Regions from separate parts of the Homo sapiens genome. Here region 2 is linked to region 1. The links come from fine-mapping of genetic effects on gene expression. Tissue or cell type: whole blood. Region 1 holds a variant in brackets; the other region holds the start of a gene. All regions are shown on one strand. Distances are from middle to middle.

The links. PIP is the estimated chance that this variant, and not a neighbour inherited with it, causes the effect.
Region 2: AEBP1 starts here. The variant in region 1 is fine-mapped to the expression of AEBP1 in whole blood (INTERVAL, PIP above 0.99).

The regions. Positions count from the first base shown.
Region 1 is chr7:43,834,091-43,842,195 of GRCh38, reverse strand. No RefSeq gene overlaps it. Among named protein-coding and RNA genes, the nearest start is that of MRPS24, 31 kb to the left of the region's middle. RefSeq lists a silencer at 3,025-3,104 and enhancers at 7,011-7,380, 7,292-7,586, 7,511-7,630. The variant G/A (reference allele first, on the strand shown) is at 4,269.
Region 2 is chr7:44,100,550-44,108,654 of GRCh38, reverse strand. AEBP1 (AE binding protein 1) reads right to left here and starts at 4,310. Exons shown (of 21, transcript NM_001129.5): 1 at 3,737-4,310; 2 at 1,768-2,109; 3 at 1,145-1,216; 4 at 955-1,026; 5 at 724-846; 6 at 571-648. The coding sequence starts at 3,989. RefSeq lists enhancers at 6,856-7,355, 7,356-7,857.

The DNA.
Region 1 (8,105 bases):
CTAGCCTAATTTGTTTCTTTATATTGCTGATTAGTATTCTATTACATGAATATATCCCAATTTGCCCATGCATTTTTGAGAGCAAAACTTGCCTCTTCTAACTTTGTTCCAGTGGTTGAAGATCTGTAAGTTAACTGACAATAGACACATTAGCAGGGGACAATACTTGGCTTCTTTTCCTGCAAGTATCTTTGTAGGACATAATGCACCAAATGGCAGGATCCAGTTTTCAAAGAGGTGAAAATAGCTCAAAGACAATGAACAGGATTAGAATCTGATCCTGTGAGATTCTAAAATCTCAAGAGTGAGTTATCGTTTTCCATTGAAACATAAAATTTTTTGTACAGTCACCCTTATTTTTGATGAAATATAATCAAAGTAAAATTATTCTTGTTTGCAAAATAAGTCTAGATCAGACTTAGAGTTTGCCTGATTATTTACATAAGTTCAGTAAGAATGGTAACCATATAGGTCTTTTTAAGTTGGCTTTCCTGGAACTTTTCATAAGGAATGTTAGGTTGAGGCTGGGCATGGTGTCTCATACCTGTAATCCCAGCACTTTGGGAAGCCAAGGTCAGGGGATCTCTTGAGCCCGGGAGTTCGACCAGCCTGGCCACAAGCAAAACCTGTCTCAATTTAAAAAAAAAAAAAAAAAAAAAGGACTATCAGGTTGGACTTTTAAAAGCCCTCTTGAGGCTAGGAAGCCAAGCCAAGGATCTACCACCAGACTTCACCTGCAGTAACTATAGATTTGGGTGAATTCTCCTCTTCTTGACCCCAAAATATCCTGTTTTCTGGTCTTTTCAGGAAGTGACCATCTCTACTCACTTGTTAGGTTTGGAACTCTGTAATTCAGGTATCAGGCTCCCTGTCACACAGAGGGTTTTGTAACCTAGAGGTTTTGGTGAACATTGGTTCTGTAAAGTCAACCTTAGTTCCTTAAAATTATCTGGTCATATCTGATCCTATGTACATCATTCTCAACTGGGACATTACAGTCAATGCATTTGTGACATTACCAATTTTCTCAATTATGTCCTGTTATAAGGTAAAGAGATTCTTATTGAATTTATGCAAATAACTATATTGCCATGAAACTAAAAATATTCAATAAGAGTTTCTAAATTCTGGAGGGATCAGGCAGGGAGAAAAAGATAAATATTTCATTTCTGTTTATAAAAGTATAGTCTCCTAAATTGTTATAGGATATAGTTATCATAAGAGAAAAAGTTTCTTTAAATCCAGAAAATAGAACATTAAAGAACCAGCAATAGTTGGGTGTGGTGGCGTATAATCCCAGATACTCAGGCAGCTGAGGTGGAAGGATGCTTCAACCCAAGAGTTTGATACCAGTGTGGACAACATAGTGAGGCTCCATCTCTAATCCATCAAAAAAGAAAAAAAAAAAGCCTGGCGTGGTGGCATATGCCTGTATTTCTAGCTACTTGGGAGGCTGAGGCGGGAGGATTGCCTGAGCCCCAAAATTCCAGGCTGCAGTGAGCTATGATGATGCCACTGTACTACAGCCTGGGACACAGAGCAAGATGCCGTCTCTAAAAATAATAATAATAGGCCAGGGGCAGTGGCTCACGCTTGTAATCCCAGCACTTTGGGAGGCCCAGGTGGGCTTGCTTGAGATCAGGAGTTCGAGACCAGCCTGGCCAACATGGTGAAACCCCGTCTCTACTAAAAATACAAAAATTAGCCAGGCGTGGTGGCAGGCTCCTGTAGTCCCAGCTACTGGGGAGGCTGAGGCAAGAGAATCGCTTGAACCCAAGAGGTGGAGGTTGCAGTGAGCCCAGATTGTGCCACGGCACTCCAGCAGCCTGGGTGACAGAGTGAGGCTCCGTCTCAAAAAAAAAAAAAAAAAAAGATATAAATTGGCTATGGTTAAGATCTAATGAAAGTTCATTATAATGCAAGGAAATTTGGTTGTTTCTGTGGCATACAACATTTAAAATACTAACTGAAATTATGACTTATAACATTACATTGGGACATATCTTGGATAGGGAGGACATTGACAAATTTCCAGGGACTTGACACAATTTCTGAAACAATAACATTTTACCCATACAAATATAACCTAGAGAAGGTTAGTATCTCTTTCTCTCTCTCTCTTTTTTGAGAGAAGGTCTCTTCCACCAAGGTGGGAGTGCAGTGGCCTAATCATGGCTTACTGCAGCCTTGACCTCCTGGGCTCAGGCGATCCTCCCACTTCAGCCTCCCTAGTAGCTGGGACTATAAGTGTGTGCCATCACACCCGGCTATGGTGTGTGTGTGTGTGTGTGTGTGTGTGTGTGTGTGTGTGTGAAAGCAAGTTTATTAGAGAAGTAAAGAAACAAAAGAATGGCTACTCCACAGGCAGAGCAACCTAATTTTTGTATTTTTTGTAGAGGTGGGTTGGTTGCAGGGTGCAGGGGTGTCTAGGCTGGTCTCAAACTCCTGGGCTCAAGCGGTTCTCCCACCTCAGCCGCTCAAGGTGCTGGGATTAAGGTGTGAACCACTGTGCCTGGCTAAGTAGTTCTCATTTGACATTGCTTTCCATGTGATTTAATGTAACTTTAGAATTTTTATAGCTTGTATTATTATTTTTTTGAGACGGAATTTCGCTCTTGTTGCTCAGGCTGGAGTGCAATGGCGCGATCTCGGCTCACAGCAACCTCCACCTCCCAGGTTCAAGCGATTCTCCTGCCTCAGCCTCCCGAGTAGCTGGGATTACAGGCATGCGTCACCACGCCCGGCTAATTTTGTATTTTTAGTAGAGACGGGGGTTTCTCCATGTTGGTCAGGCTGGTCTCGAACTCCCGACCTCAGGTGATCCGCTCGCCTCAGCCTCCCAAAGTGCTGGGATTACAGGCGTGAGCCACCGCGCCCGGCCAGCTTTGTATTTTAAATTTAAGTCAATGGACTATTTTGAATGAATTTTTGTGAAACTTGTAAAGTTTGGATCTACATTTATTTCGTTCCGATTAATAATTTCTTTAACATTTTTGAGAAAGACACAGGATAGTGGGCCCCATTTTATTTTGAACGTCCGTAATCATGGCATTGAACGATCTGAATTTAATTAATTCAACCAGACAGCCAGGAGGGGGCACGCGGCCACCGCTAAACAGTGAGCGAGCGCCGAGGGCCCCGCGCTGCCCCAGATGACCAGCAGGGGGCGTGCGAGCCGCCTTGTCGGACCCCTGAGAAGCCCCCACCGCCTCCGTGCTCCTACTGCGGCCGCCAGCGCCGGGCCCGCAGTGAGGAGGAGAACCTCATTTTCCTCAACACAGATCTAAGGGGACACCGCCTCACTTTGAGACAACTTGAGGCTGCGTCAGTGGTGAGTAAAATCCTTCCTGTCACAGTCCTGACTACTGAGGAGCAGTTGGTCTTCAGAACCCCCAGTAGAGGAAGGGCTTCATGTGGAATTTTGGAAATAAAAAACCCCGGTTTCCACCACACAGGAGGTCCTTCTCAACAGCTAAGACACAGTGGCTGCTAGTATAATACCACGCAGCAGCCTTTTAATACTAACATCACATTCAGAGGCTTACCAGGGAGACTGGTTTCCTAGCTTTGGCTGAACTGGATTTGGGTCAGGCTTAGCCTCTGGAATGAAGTTTGGTGTCACCTCTGCTTTACTGACGCGGTATTGACGTGGTTGATTGATTGATTGATTGATTTTTTTTTTCTAGAGACAGAGCTCCCTATGTTGCCCAGGCTCCAAATCGTGACCTCAAGTGATCCGCCCGCCTCAGCCTTCCAAAGTGCTGGGATTACAGGCCTGAACCACCATGCCTTAGCCTTATTTTTCATTTTTTAGACAGTCTCAATCTGTCAGGCTGGAGTGCAGTGGCACGATCATAGCTCACTGCAGCCTTTAACGTCTGGGCTGAAGGATCCTCCCGTTTCATCTTCCTGAGTAGCTGGGACTACAGGCATGCACCACCAAGCCTGGCTAATTTTTAATTTTATTGTAGAGAAGATGTCTATGTTGCCCAGGCTGGTCTTCAGCTCCTGGATGCAAGCGTTCCTCACGCAAGCGAACCCAGCCCACATGGTTGTTTAAAAAAGTAATTACTGAGGTCAGGAGTTCAAGACCAGCCTGGCCAACATGGTAAAACCCCGTCTCTACTAAAAATACAAAAATTAGCCGAGTGTAGGGGCAGGTGCCTGTAATCCCAGCTACTCCGGAGGCTGAGGCAGGAGAATCGCTTAAACCCAGGAGGCGGAAGTTGCAGTGAGCTGAGATTGAGCCACTGCACTCCAGCCTGGGC[G/A]ACAGAACAAGACTCCGTCTCAAAAAAAAAAAAAGTAATTACTTTTTGAGGCTGGGCGTGGTGGCTCACGCCTGTAATCCCAGCACTTTGAGAGGCCCAGGCAGGAGGATCACTTGAACCCAGGAGTTCGAGATCAGCCTAGCCAACATGGTGAAACCCCGTCTCTACCAAAAAATACAAAAATAGCAGGGCATGGTGATGTGTACCTATAATCCCAGCTACTCGGGAGGCGGAGGCAAGAGAATCTCATGAACTTGAGAGGTGGAGGTTGCAGTGAAATTGCACCTTTGCATTGCAGCCTGGGCGACAGAGGGAGACTGTCTTAAATAAATAAATAAATAAAAGTAATTACTTTTTGATAATTTCATTCTTATGGAAAACTTGCAATAGCAATACAAATCCCTGTCCTTTCTATCAAAGTCTCCAGTGGTTATTGCTGTACCAGATTTGTAATTTCACACAAAATACTTGTTTTTTTACCCAAAGCAGGGACACTCTCCCAGGTAACAATCACTCTCCCCTTTATCAGGAAATCGACAAGAATTACAAAAATGACCTGGGCGTGGTGGCACACGCCTGTGATCCCAGCTACTCAGGAGGCTGAGGCAGGAGAATCACTGGAACCTGGGAGGTGGAGGTTGCAGTGAGCAGAGATGGACCCAGTGCACTTTAGCCTGGGGGACAGAGTGAGACTCAGTCTCAGAAAAAAAAAAAAAGAAAGAAAGAAAAAGAAAAGAAAAAGAAATTAACACAGTGTCCACATGGCAATCCAGTCCTCAGACCTACTTTGCTTCACCACCTGCTCCAGTGTGGGTGGGAAAAAGATTATCTGCATTTAAAAATTTTTTTCTAACTCCTTGAGTGGCAGATAAAGCAATTTTTATGCCAGACACTGATACTTACATTATGGCTCTGAGCTCAAGATTTTAACCTGTCTGATCTGAGAGCCTAACTTTTCTAAACATTTATGTAATTCTTCTAGACTATTAGTCTTTCAATTACCTGTTTTGTCACCATACACAGTTGTTAGGCAGGCAAACCTAAATTTACATTTCCGAAAGGGACAGTTCAGGTGTCTAGGTTGTTTATCATGGAGCTGTTATTTGTAAAGTCATTAATTTGAAATGGCTTTAAGTCTTTTTTTAAAAAATCTTGGCTCAAATGTCATAAGCAGTGATTTTTATCTCAACACCAGCAGAAAAGTCAGCAGATTGAAAGTAGGCAGGAAAAAAATAAAATAGAGAGATAGAGAACTTCGAAGATTTTGCTTGTTAACCGCATAGTTGGTTGTAGTTTTCTTAGTGACCATCTGAGCTCTGAACTTTCCTTGATAGAATTTGCCCATCTGTTTCAAAATGTGCATGAGAATGAGCCATAATATAGTCAGCTGGAATCCTCAAAGGAAGGTTGTTTTGGCATGGCTTTAGAGTTTAGGATCTCATTCCATTTCTTTTTCTTTATTTTTATTTTTTTGTTTTTGTTTTTTTGAGACACAGTCTCACTCTGTTGCCCAGGCTGGAGTGCAGTGGTTTGACCTTGGCTCACTGCAACATCTTCTGGCTGGATTCAGGCTATTCTCCTTTCTCAGCCTCCTGAGTAGCTGGGAGTACAGGCGCCTGCCACCACGCCTGGCTAATTTTTGTATCTTTAGCAGAGATGGGATTTCACCATGTTGGCCAGGCTGGTCTTGAACTCCTGACCTCAAATGATCTGCCTACCTCAGCCTCCCAAAGTGCTGGGATTGCAGGCATGAGCCACTGTGCCCGGCTTCATTCCATTTCTTATTAATCTCTTGAGAGCAAAGAAATTCCCATAAATCTTTTCAGGGAATGTCAGGAGTTTGGACCAATATTTTACATCAATTTCAGTATGGTAACCACGTTCCTTCACCAAAGTAATACTTTTCACAACACACTGCATAAGTAACATTTGTGGAAACGTCTTTTTAAAATAGTATATAAATAACATTTCAGAAGCCTGTTTAACATGACTACAAACACTTCACTACATTCATTACTTCCTTACATGGAAGTTACACGGTTCACAACAAACTTTGTAAGTAGCATTTAAAAATTTTCTTCTACTTCTTTCCTATCTGGATGTCTGTCATGCTTTTTCTTGCTTGATTGTTGTGGCTAGGACTTCCAGTACTATATTGAATAGACATGGTGAGAGTTGGCATCTTTGTCTTGTTCCTGATCTTAGAGGAAAAAATATTTTCACAGTTAAATATGTTAGCTGTGGGCTTGTCAGAGATAGTCTTTGTCGTGCTGAGAAACATTACTCTTTTTTCAACATTCCTCTTTTGTTTTGGAGACAGGGTCTTGCTCTGTCACCCAGGCTGGAGTGCAGTGGTGCGATCTTGGCTCACTGCAACTTCTGCCTCCTCAGTTCAAGTGATTCTCCTGCCTCAGCCTCCCAAGTAGCTGGGATTACAAGTGTGTGCCACTGCACCCGGCTAATTTTTGTATTTTTAGTAGAAATGGGGTTTCACCATGTTGGCCGTGTTTTACCATGTTGGCCATCTTGAACTCCTGACCTCAGGTGACCCGCCCACCTGGGCCTCCCAAACTGCTGGGATTACAGGCATGAGCCACTGTGCCCGGCCTCAAAAGATTTTTAAATTTCTTCTTTGAGGCTGGGCACAGTGGCACACACCGGTAATCCCAGCACTTTGGGAGGCCAAGGCAGGCAGATTGCTTAAGCCCAGAAGTTTGAGACCAGCCTGGGCAACATGGTGAAACCCCTTCTCTACAAAAAATACAAAAAGCCAGATGTGGTGGTATGAGCCTGTAGTCCCAAGCTACTGGGGAGGCTGAGGTGGGGGGATCACTTGGACCCAGGAGGTTGAGGTTGTGGTGAGCTATTGAGCGACTAAGTGGCTAAGTTGGCTGGACTTCCTGGGTCAATAGGGACTTCCCTAAGGGGACTTTTCCCTAAGCCAAAATGAGTCATAGCTGCAAGCTAAGGGATTGAAACTTCAACCAATCAAAGGGGACTTTCTCCTAAGCCAAAATGAGTCATAGCTGCAAGCTAAGGGATTGAAACTTCAACCAATCATATAGGGAGTTTAAGCTCTAGCTGCAGCGTGATGTTTTTAACCAATCAGGCCCACCAACCCACAAGCGGATAGAAAATAAGCTAATCCTATAGGACAGGAAAAGGAAAAGGAAAAGGGAAGGAGTCATAAGGGCATATAAGCATAAGACACTCAAGCCAGGGCAACCCTTCCAGGTCCCCTTCCACCACGTGGAAGCTTTACTTTCACTTTTGCTTTACATTCACTTTCGCTTTAATAAATCTTGCTGCCACACACTCTTTGGGTCCACACGTTTCTCTAATTGAGCTGTAACACTTGCCACTGTGGTCCACAGCTTCATTCCTTGAAGCCCATGAGACCACAAACTCTTCGATCAAGAAAAACCTTTGATCGGAAGAAGACTTCTCATCTCACTATCATGTCACTGCACTCCAGTATGAGTGACGGAGTGAGACCCCATCTCAAAAAAAAAAATAATTCTTTGACCCATTGGTTGTATAGGAGCATGTTGTTTAAATTCTACATATTTGTGAATTTTCTGAAATTACTCCTATTATTGATTTCTAGTTTTATACCATTGTGATCAGAAAAGATACTTGTTATGATTTCAGTTTTCTTAATTTGTTATGACTTATTTTGTGACCTGATATATACTCTATCTTGGAGAATGTTCCATGTGCACTTGAGAAGATTGTGTATTCTGAATGACATGGTTTGCAGCTGTCCATAAGATCTGAAACATTATTTAAACATGTGTCTTCAGACGCTTCACTACATACATTACTTCCATTCACTAA
Region 2 (8,105 bases), 270 kb before region 1:
TCGAGGCCCAGGGCATGGGAAAGGCCTGGAGGGACAACTGGCACCTGTGCCTGGGGTTGCGGGCTGGGGGGTGAGATGGGGAGACATTGGAGGCACTGATGGGGACCTGGGGGCAGGGAAATGGCGATGCACGGGCTGCCACCCAGGAGGAAAGGGAACCTGAGGGCTCCAGGGACGCAGGGGCATGAGCAACAGGGAGGCAAAAGCCCTCGGGCTCCCTGAAGAGAGTGGGGCAGTGGCCACGAGCCAGCGGGAAGCCAGTTAGAGCACAGGACTGGGAGGGCTGGAACCCACATGGGTGACAGGGCAGAGTGTGTGCCTAGGGACACCCCTGTGGGGGTCACAGCCAAGCAGGAACCAGGGAAGCGGCCAAGGAAAGACCAGCCTGAGGGCAGAGGAGACAGGGCAGTGGCTGGGGTGGGCACGCAGGGACAGCAGGGACAGCGAGGTAACCACGGGCACAGGTGGGGTTGCAAGGTGGGTGAGTTGCCCCAGCTGGCTCCTGACCACACCCCAGCCCCGACCCCCACCTGCCTATGTCCCTCAGACTCTGGGGTGCTGGGTACTCACTGTCATCGTAGTTGGGGATCACGTAACCATCACCATAGTCAGGGGGCAGCGGGGGCAGCAGAGGCTTCACAGGAGGCTCTGGGGAGGCGGGGAGGTTAGGAGGGGGCCAGAGCGCCGTGGCCATGGCACCTCCTCTCCTGCCCCCCATCCTACCAATCCTCTCCTCCGGGGCTGGGGCCGGGGCCTTCTCCTCAGGGGGCTCTGGCCAGACCCGCTCGGGCCTCCTCCTTCTGCTTGGGGGTGGCCTGGGTTGCTTCTGGCGCCGAATGTACTCAACTGAGGGGGAGGCTGGCTCAGAGTGGGGCCCAAGGCTGGGATGGGCCCATTGGCACATCCCCCAGGCCAGGGGTCCGACCCAGGTGGGGCTGGCAGGACCCTACTCACAGTCCTCATAGTCCTCCCTCTCGATCTGGTCATTGTAGTCCAGTGTGGGTTGCTCGGTCTCCTCCTCCGGCTCTGAGGGGAAAGCGCTGGTAGCTGCCTGACAACCCCACCCAGGCCTACTCTGGGGAAGCCCTCAGTCCAACCAGCCAGGGCAGCTGGCCCCAAGGCCAGGCGGATGACGGCCACTCACCAGGCTGGTGCTCCCGTGCCTCCACATGGGTCTCCTCTCCTGGATTCTGCCAGTTATTTGAGAGGGGCGCCCCTGCAACACAGGAGTTCCAGAAGCAGGTGGGCGGGAGGCCTGCTCTGACCACCTTGGGAGCCTCAGGCCACCAGCCACCCATAGAGCCCACACAGAGCCTGTGGACACCCTCCTGAGGCCGAGCTCACTCCAAGGAGGCCTGAGCTCCTCTGGCCTTCAGCATCCTGCTGGCATCTCATGGGGCCAGAGAGCTGGGCCCACCTTCTGGGGAACCTACTGTGCTGCTGGAGGCCCTACCACAAAGCTGTCCCCAGCGGGAGAAGGCAGGAGGGAACTCCATGGGCTCAGAGCCCAGGGACATCTGGGCAGGGGCCTGAGGGACAGAGGTCCCACCCAAAAGGCTGCCAAGCCCTCTCCCTACCCAAAAGAGGCTACAGCACTGAGGGAGCCCACCAATCAAATTGTGAAATTTATAGCAAAAGTGAGGTTCCCATCCAGTGGGGAGCTGAAGGTCTATAGGAAGCAGGGCCCCAGAAACCTGCCTCCCACTCCCTGCCTCCACCCGAGCAGGCAGTCAGAGCCCCATCACCCCAGAGGAGCCCGGCACAAACCTCCCTCCTGGGGTAGCTCCTCGGGGCCAGGGCTGGGGGGTGGGGGCAGTGGCCACTCCAGGGTTTCTGAGGGAGCCAGAATGGGGGGCCTCTTCCCTGACGGGGGCTTCTTGGTGGCCTTGGGTGGCTTCTCTTTGGGCTTCTTGGTGGCCTTGGGTGGCTTCTCCTTGGGCTTCTTGGTGGCCTTAGGTGGCTTCTCCTTGGGCTTCTTGGTGGCCTTGGGTGGCTTCTCCTTCCCCTTCTTGGGCGGCCTGGGGGACCCCTCCAAGGACTCCTTGGGCACCTTGGGGCCTTTGTCTTTCTTGCCTTTCTTCCCTTTGTCTTTGGTCTTTTCCGGAGGCACTGTCCAAGATGCAGACTCGTGTCAAATGAACAGAGCCAGCTCTGTGCCCCCATGAGGCCCCTCTCTAGATGCCCAGAACCTGGGCACAGGGACTCTTGTCAGTTCCCAGTGCGGATCAGCAAACTGAGAGGTTAAGTCATTTGCCCAAGTGGCAAACTGGGATCCGGACCCAGATTTTCTGTCTGCAAGTCTGGGGCTGTGACCACCAATCTCAACCTCTCTAAAGACTGAGCGTAGGGTTCCCAGTTCCCAGGGGGAGGCCCTCATCCCCCCACCTGCCAAAACCTCAATAGGGGTTCCTTACTATCCACTCCTCCACTATTCTGTTCTGGGCACAGAAGGGGCAGAGAGGTGACTGAGCCATCCAGGCCTGGAGGAGCATCTGGTCATCCCTGCCAACTGCCATACAAAGGAAGGGACATGGGCCCAAGACCTTCCCCTGGTCTCCTACGGGGCAAGAAAAGCTTCAAAGAAAAGGGACACTTGGTTGAGTATTGAAGCCCAAAGAAGAGGAAGTGGTCTCCTTTCGAGAAGTAAGGGGTTTGGAATTGATTGGAAGGATAGGGAGTCCTGGGGGGTTCAGGGATCACACAGAGGACAGAAAAGACAGGTAGGGAGCTTGTGGCTGCACACTCATTTCAGAGTCTGGGAGAGGGAGCAGGGACTGGTTGTGAGGATTCCCCATGGGAATCCTCCCAGGACCCTAAGCAGGAGCTGCAAGTGCTGTTGAGAACCTGATGAGAGGTGGGGAGCATGAGGGAAGTTTGGCAGAAACACAGGAAAGCTACCAAATGCAGACAGCCAGGGGACGCAGGGCTGCTAGAGCGGTGCCCCAGAGCCAGGAGAGCAAGCCTGGAAGGAGAGCCAGAGGCAGGAGGGGCACAGGCAGCCCAGGGTGTGGGAAGCAGCCAGGAAAGATCTAGAGCTGGGGTGGCAGGGGAGGGGCTGCTGACATCAGGAATGTTGGATGGTGCCTTGGAATCTCCTGGGAGACAGGGATCACAAGACCCTCTGCCACCTTCCAGAGGGCCACGATGAAAACAGCTAAGATTTACTGACAACTGATTATGCAAGAGGCCGTGGGTTAAATGCTTCAGTGATGCATCACCTCATCTAATTTCCTGTACTAATGTAGGACCACCCATTGCTCACCACCACCTGAAGCCCTGTGCTCACCACCACCTGAAACTCTCTCACCTACGTGAGACCTCCTGGAGTAGGAGGGCAAAGGCAGGAGGGAGGGACGACGTGAAGCTGTGCCACCAACAGGGAGAGTGGTCCCATTAGTATGGCAGGGGGTGACACAGCACAGTCCCCTGTGGCTCAAGCCTAGTACCTGTCGCGTACTGGAGGAATGGGGATAAGCGACCCGTACAACCACAGCACCAACCCTAGAGCCACCGGCCCCCAAAAGCGGCCCTGCCGCCCGGGTGCTGGATGTGCCTCCACGCCAGCGCTGACCTCGGCCTAGCACAGGGTCCCTCCAGGCATCTGGGCTCGCGTGCGCATTAGTAAGCCAGCCATTCCTCCCCTAGCAGACTGGGGAGTGGCCAGACCCTACCGAATCCCCCTGTTCCCACCTGAGATGCCAGCCCCCCACACCCCCGCCCTGCCCTGGGCTCTTACCTTCTGCGGCCGTCCCTGGCCGCTTCCCTGGCTTGCCCCCCGCCTGGGCTTTTCGGACCCGCGGGGTGGGCTCGGGAGGCGGCGGGGCCTCCACGTCGTCCTCCCGGGGCTCAGGTTCTAGCTCTGACAGGAAGCCCTCGAGGAACTCCTCGATCTCGTCGTCGGTCAGCACCGTCTGCGGGCGCCCTCCAGGGCACAGGGCCAGCAACGCCAGGAGGCAGCTGAGCAGGGGCGCCCCGCGCACGGCCGCCATGGCCGCGGCACGCGCGGGGGGCTCCGGGGAGGGCGCGGGGGGTCAGGGGCTCTGGGTCTCTGGGAAAGGGCGGAGAGGGGATCGAGACGGGTGAGGGAATCCAGGAAGGGGCGGGAGAGAGGATGGGGTGAGCGAGGGAATCCGGGAAAGGGAGGGAGAGTGGATTAGGGTGGGCGAGGGGACCCGGGAAGGGGTGCTGGGGGGCTCCGAAGCCAGAGGGGCTCAGGGGTGGTCGGGGCGCTCCGAGGTCCTGGCGGCTAATAGGCGCTCCGGCCCCGCGTGGCGCACTCCCGCGCGGATAGCCGTCTCCAAAGCGCTGGCGGGGCCCGGGGCGGGGGCGCCGGGGCTTCCGGAGCCGGCTCCCCACCCCCGGGGAGGAGGAGGAGGAAGAGAAGGAGGAGCCGAGAGTGGACGGAGGGGCTGCGGGGGGGCGGGGGGCGGGGGGCGGGGGGCTAGGGGCGGGGCAGGCGGGCGGGCGCTGGCGGCGAGCGTCCCAAGCCCGGAGACTTGCGCCTAGGACAGAGGGGCAGGGGGCGGGGCGACTGGGAAGACAGAGGGCCTGAGGGAAGGAAAGGTGGTGGGGAGGGCCTGGGGTGCGGGTCTGAGGGGGCCGACATCCCTCCTCCTTCTGCCCTAGGCACCCCCCTTAAGGCGGGACCCCGAGTCCACCGGGGCTCTGAGCCCTCCGCGGGTGACCAGGAACCCTGGACGGAAAGCCGTGGTGTCAGGCCTCTGAGACCTCTCTCAATTCGGAGGGCCACAGAAAGGCCACCCCATCCTTCCCAGGCTCTGGAGCCTCTGCCCATGGGCCCTGCTGCATCCCAGCGTCAATTCATTCAGTCATCCTACCAACCTCTTCAGGTCGGTGTGGGGCCGGGCCCCGTGCTGGGCCCCAGGGAGGGACAGCACAGTGGGAACTCACTTTCCAGCCAGGAGGCAGGTGCAAAACTGCCCTCAGAGTGGCCAGCTGCCCCGCTGGGGGTAGGAGTCCCATGTAAGGGCATGCCATCCCTCCCCTCCGGGTCCCAACGTGGACAAATAGCCATTTATCACCTTCTTCTTACCAGAACTCATTTTTTAAAAAGTGTCTACCATACCTCCAGCTGCCACATGGACCCAGAGGGCCCAGAGGACCCAGAAGGCAGGTGGATTGAGTGTCAACTGATCCCAGGATCCATCAGGGATGTGCACCTTGGTGCCTGGTGTTTGCCATAAGGCTTCTCCAGGGCAAATGTTGGCTGCCCTACAACGGCCATCAACAGGCAGAGTGGTCCCATTAGTATGGCAGGGCGTGACACAGCACAGTCCCCCGTGACTCAAGCCTAGTCCCTGTCTCATACTGGAGGAATGGGGAGCTAAGGACAGAGCTCCGAGGACATTCCCCCTTAAAGGAATGAGGACACAAGAGAAAGCTCACAGGTAGTCCATGGGCCAAGTGCAGAGGCAGACAGCCCTAAGCCACGATTGTCTGCGGGGTTTGGCCCCAGTGAAGTAGTCAGGTAGGGAAGCCTAGGAGCCCCTGGGATGATTGACAGGGCAGAGTTTGGACCTGGGGTCAAAAGGAAAGAGGAAAAGTGGGTCAGGAAGCACCTGGGTCCCCAGAGCAGCCCCGAGTGAGTTGGAGCAGGCAGCAGCCGGGGAGGCCACAGTGGAGGCTGCTGGGCCTGGGATACATGCCACCCCCTGGGAGCAGGACCACAAGGAGGCCTTGCCTCCTCTCACACCTGGTCCTGCCAAGACCCTGCCTTTGCTTTCTCACTGCATCTCCTTGAAAAAGCAGTGGGACTGTGTCAGGTTCTGGCTCTACCTCCCAGGCACCACATCTCGGCAGGTAGCCTCAGTGCCGTCCACCTGTGTCCCTGTTCTCCTTGTCGTTCATACAGGATCATGCATGTGCTGTGCCTAGCACACATTCTTGGCACTCACACTGCTGCCTTTTAGCTCTCATCATTTGCCCTCAGAGATCAACCTGAGCTGTGCCCACTGGGGCGCTCAGAGCAGACCCTGAGCCCCAACACCCAGGCTCCCTGTGCACCTGAGCCTGCCTCTGCCTGCCACGTGCCCCCAGGCCAGTCCTGGTGGCAGCAAGGATCCGCAAGCTCTCCCCTTTCCTCATCCTCTGCAAAGCTCTGAATCATCTTTCTCAAAACTTGTTCTGGGAATTTGCTCCGTTGCCCCAGTTGAGCATGTCAAGCCCGGCGGCCCAAGGCTGGGGTGAAGCAGCGTGGCACGTCACTTCCCTGGGAACAACTCACACATGGATTGGATTTGGGTCCAACATCCTCTGCCAGGGAAAATAGAAGCCATAAGAAAACAAAAAAGGAACAGAAGGAGGCTTTTCTTCAGTCACAGCGAGTCACCAACAAAAACATGTGCAAAAGCTCTCATGGAGAGCTGGGCCACAAGGAGGGCCATGATGTTGGGGGCCCTCTGACACCAAGGGTGTGGGCAGGTGGATGGGAGGCAGCTGCCCTCCATGCCAGGCTGATGTGCCTCCCTTTGGGTGGTGGGGCTGGGACTCCCACTCCACTTGAAGACCTGCACCAAAAAGTCCTTTAGCCCTGTGCCCAGGCTCTGCCACGGGGCCGGTGAGGGGACTTCTCCCCTCTGCTGCCAGAGTGAAGCCAGTCAGGGGGATGGGAGGCTTGTAGCCAAGAGCACCTAGTGGCTTTCAGGGTCCCTTACCCCTGCCACTTAGCAGGGTCTGCACCTGCATCCAAGTGTTCTCCTGGGCTACAGTGGGGGGCTGGTAGACACTCTGGTGATCCACTTTCAGCTTCCCACATGGATGTGGCAGGGACTGCTTTGGCATTTCCCTACCCCAAGGGACAGCCACTGCGGCAGGACTGGGCTGGGGAGGGTGGGGCCTGCGCTGGGGAGGGTGCCCCCTGTCCCTTGCTGCTGCTGGAATGGGAAGGAGAGTTGTTGAGAGAGCCAGAACTGTCCAAGGGTGGAAGCTGGCGAAACTGACCTGCAGGGAACAGGGAGACAGGGAGCATGGCCCAGTGAGTAGGTCCTATGTAGCTCTGAGGCCATCAACCCTGCCATGAGGGCTGAGACCCCAAGAGAGAAGTTGAGGTTGGGTCAGGGGCCTGTTAGTGCCAGCTGAGGAGGGGGACAGGCCAGCCTCCTCCCACTGGGACCCAAGCTATAGCTCCTGAGCCTCCAGAGCTGCCTGGTGCCTCAACCTGGTCAGAGGTGGAAACTCACCTGCCAGCAGGCCCAGTGTGCCTGAGTTCTGACTGTGGGGATCTGCAGGGCACAGAAGGATAAGAGGTCATCAGGGCCTGGGGACAGGCAGGAGTGGCAGGGTCTGGGAGGCTGGGAGCAGACCCTCCCAACCTGCCCCATGGCCTCTGTGGCCCCCAGGACCCCCATGGCAGCAGCTCAGACACGGGTTGTGCCTCAGAAGGAAGTGAAGCTGTGTGTACCGAGATGGCCCAGCAAACCCTTTGTATGTAAACTTCCGCCACAGCCCAGCTGTCCAGCACCAGCATGTGTATCTGGGGGAGGGGGATAAATAGAAGGTCTGGGAGGCCTGGGATCTGGCCAGCAGGCTACTGGGATCACAGATGCCAGCCCCTCCATATCTCCCCTTGAGTCCTGGATCTGCCTCCTGGGACCAAAGGGGAAAGGACCAGGCTAGGCTCCTTCCTTTTTGTTCTTCCCTCTTGGGGGAGGCTCCTAGAAACTCCCCCTTCTCTGCCGCCCAAGTGCCTGGATATTACCAGTGGGGTTAGCCTGTTTGGGCCCACAAGATGGGATGGCTCCCAGAGCCATGGGACCTGAGGTCTCCCAGACAGTGTCTAGCCACCCTCACAACTGGCAGAACAATTTCCTTGGTTTTCAACAACTTGAAAAACATATGTGATTTTCCACAGTCCGGTGCTTCTCAGGCCTGGCTGCTGAGTGAGCAGAGTTCATGCTGAATTCCTTCCACTCACCACAGGGCAGACAGCAAGCCCAGCTGTGGGGACTCGGTTGGGGTGGGGGTCACCACAGCAAGGCGCGGGGAGTGGGGAGGGGGGCAGGCTTCCAGCACTGATGAGTAATTCTGCTGCCCGAAGATCTGGGAAGAGGGCATGTGACAACTTAGTGCAACAATCTGCCCAGTGT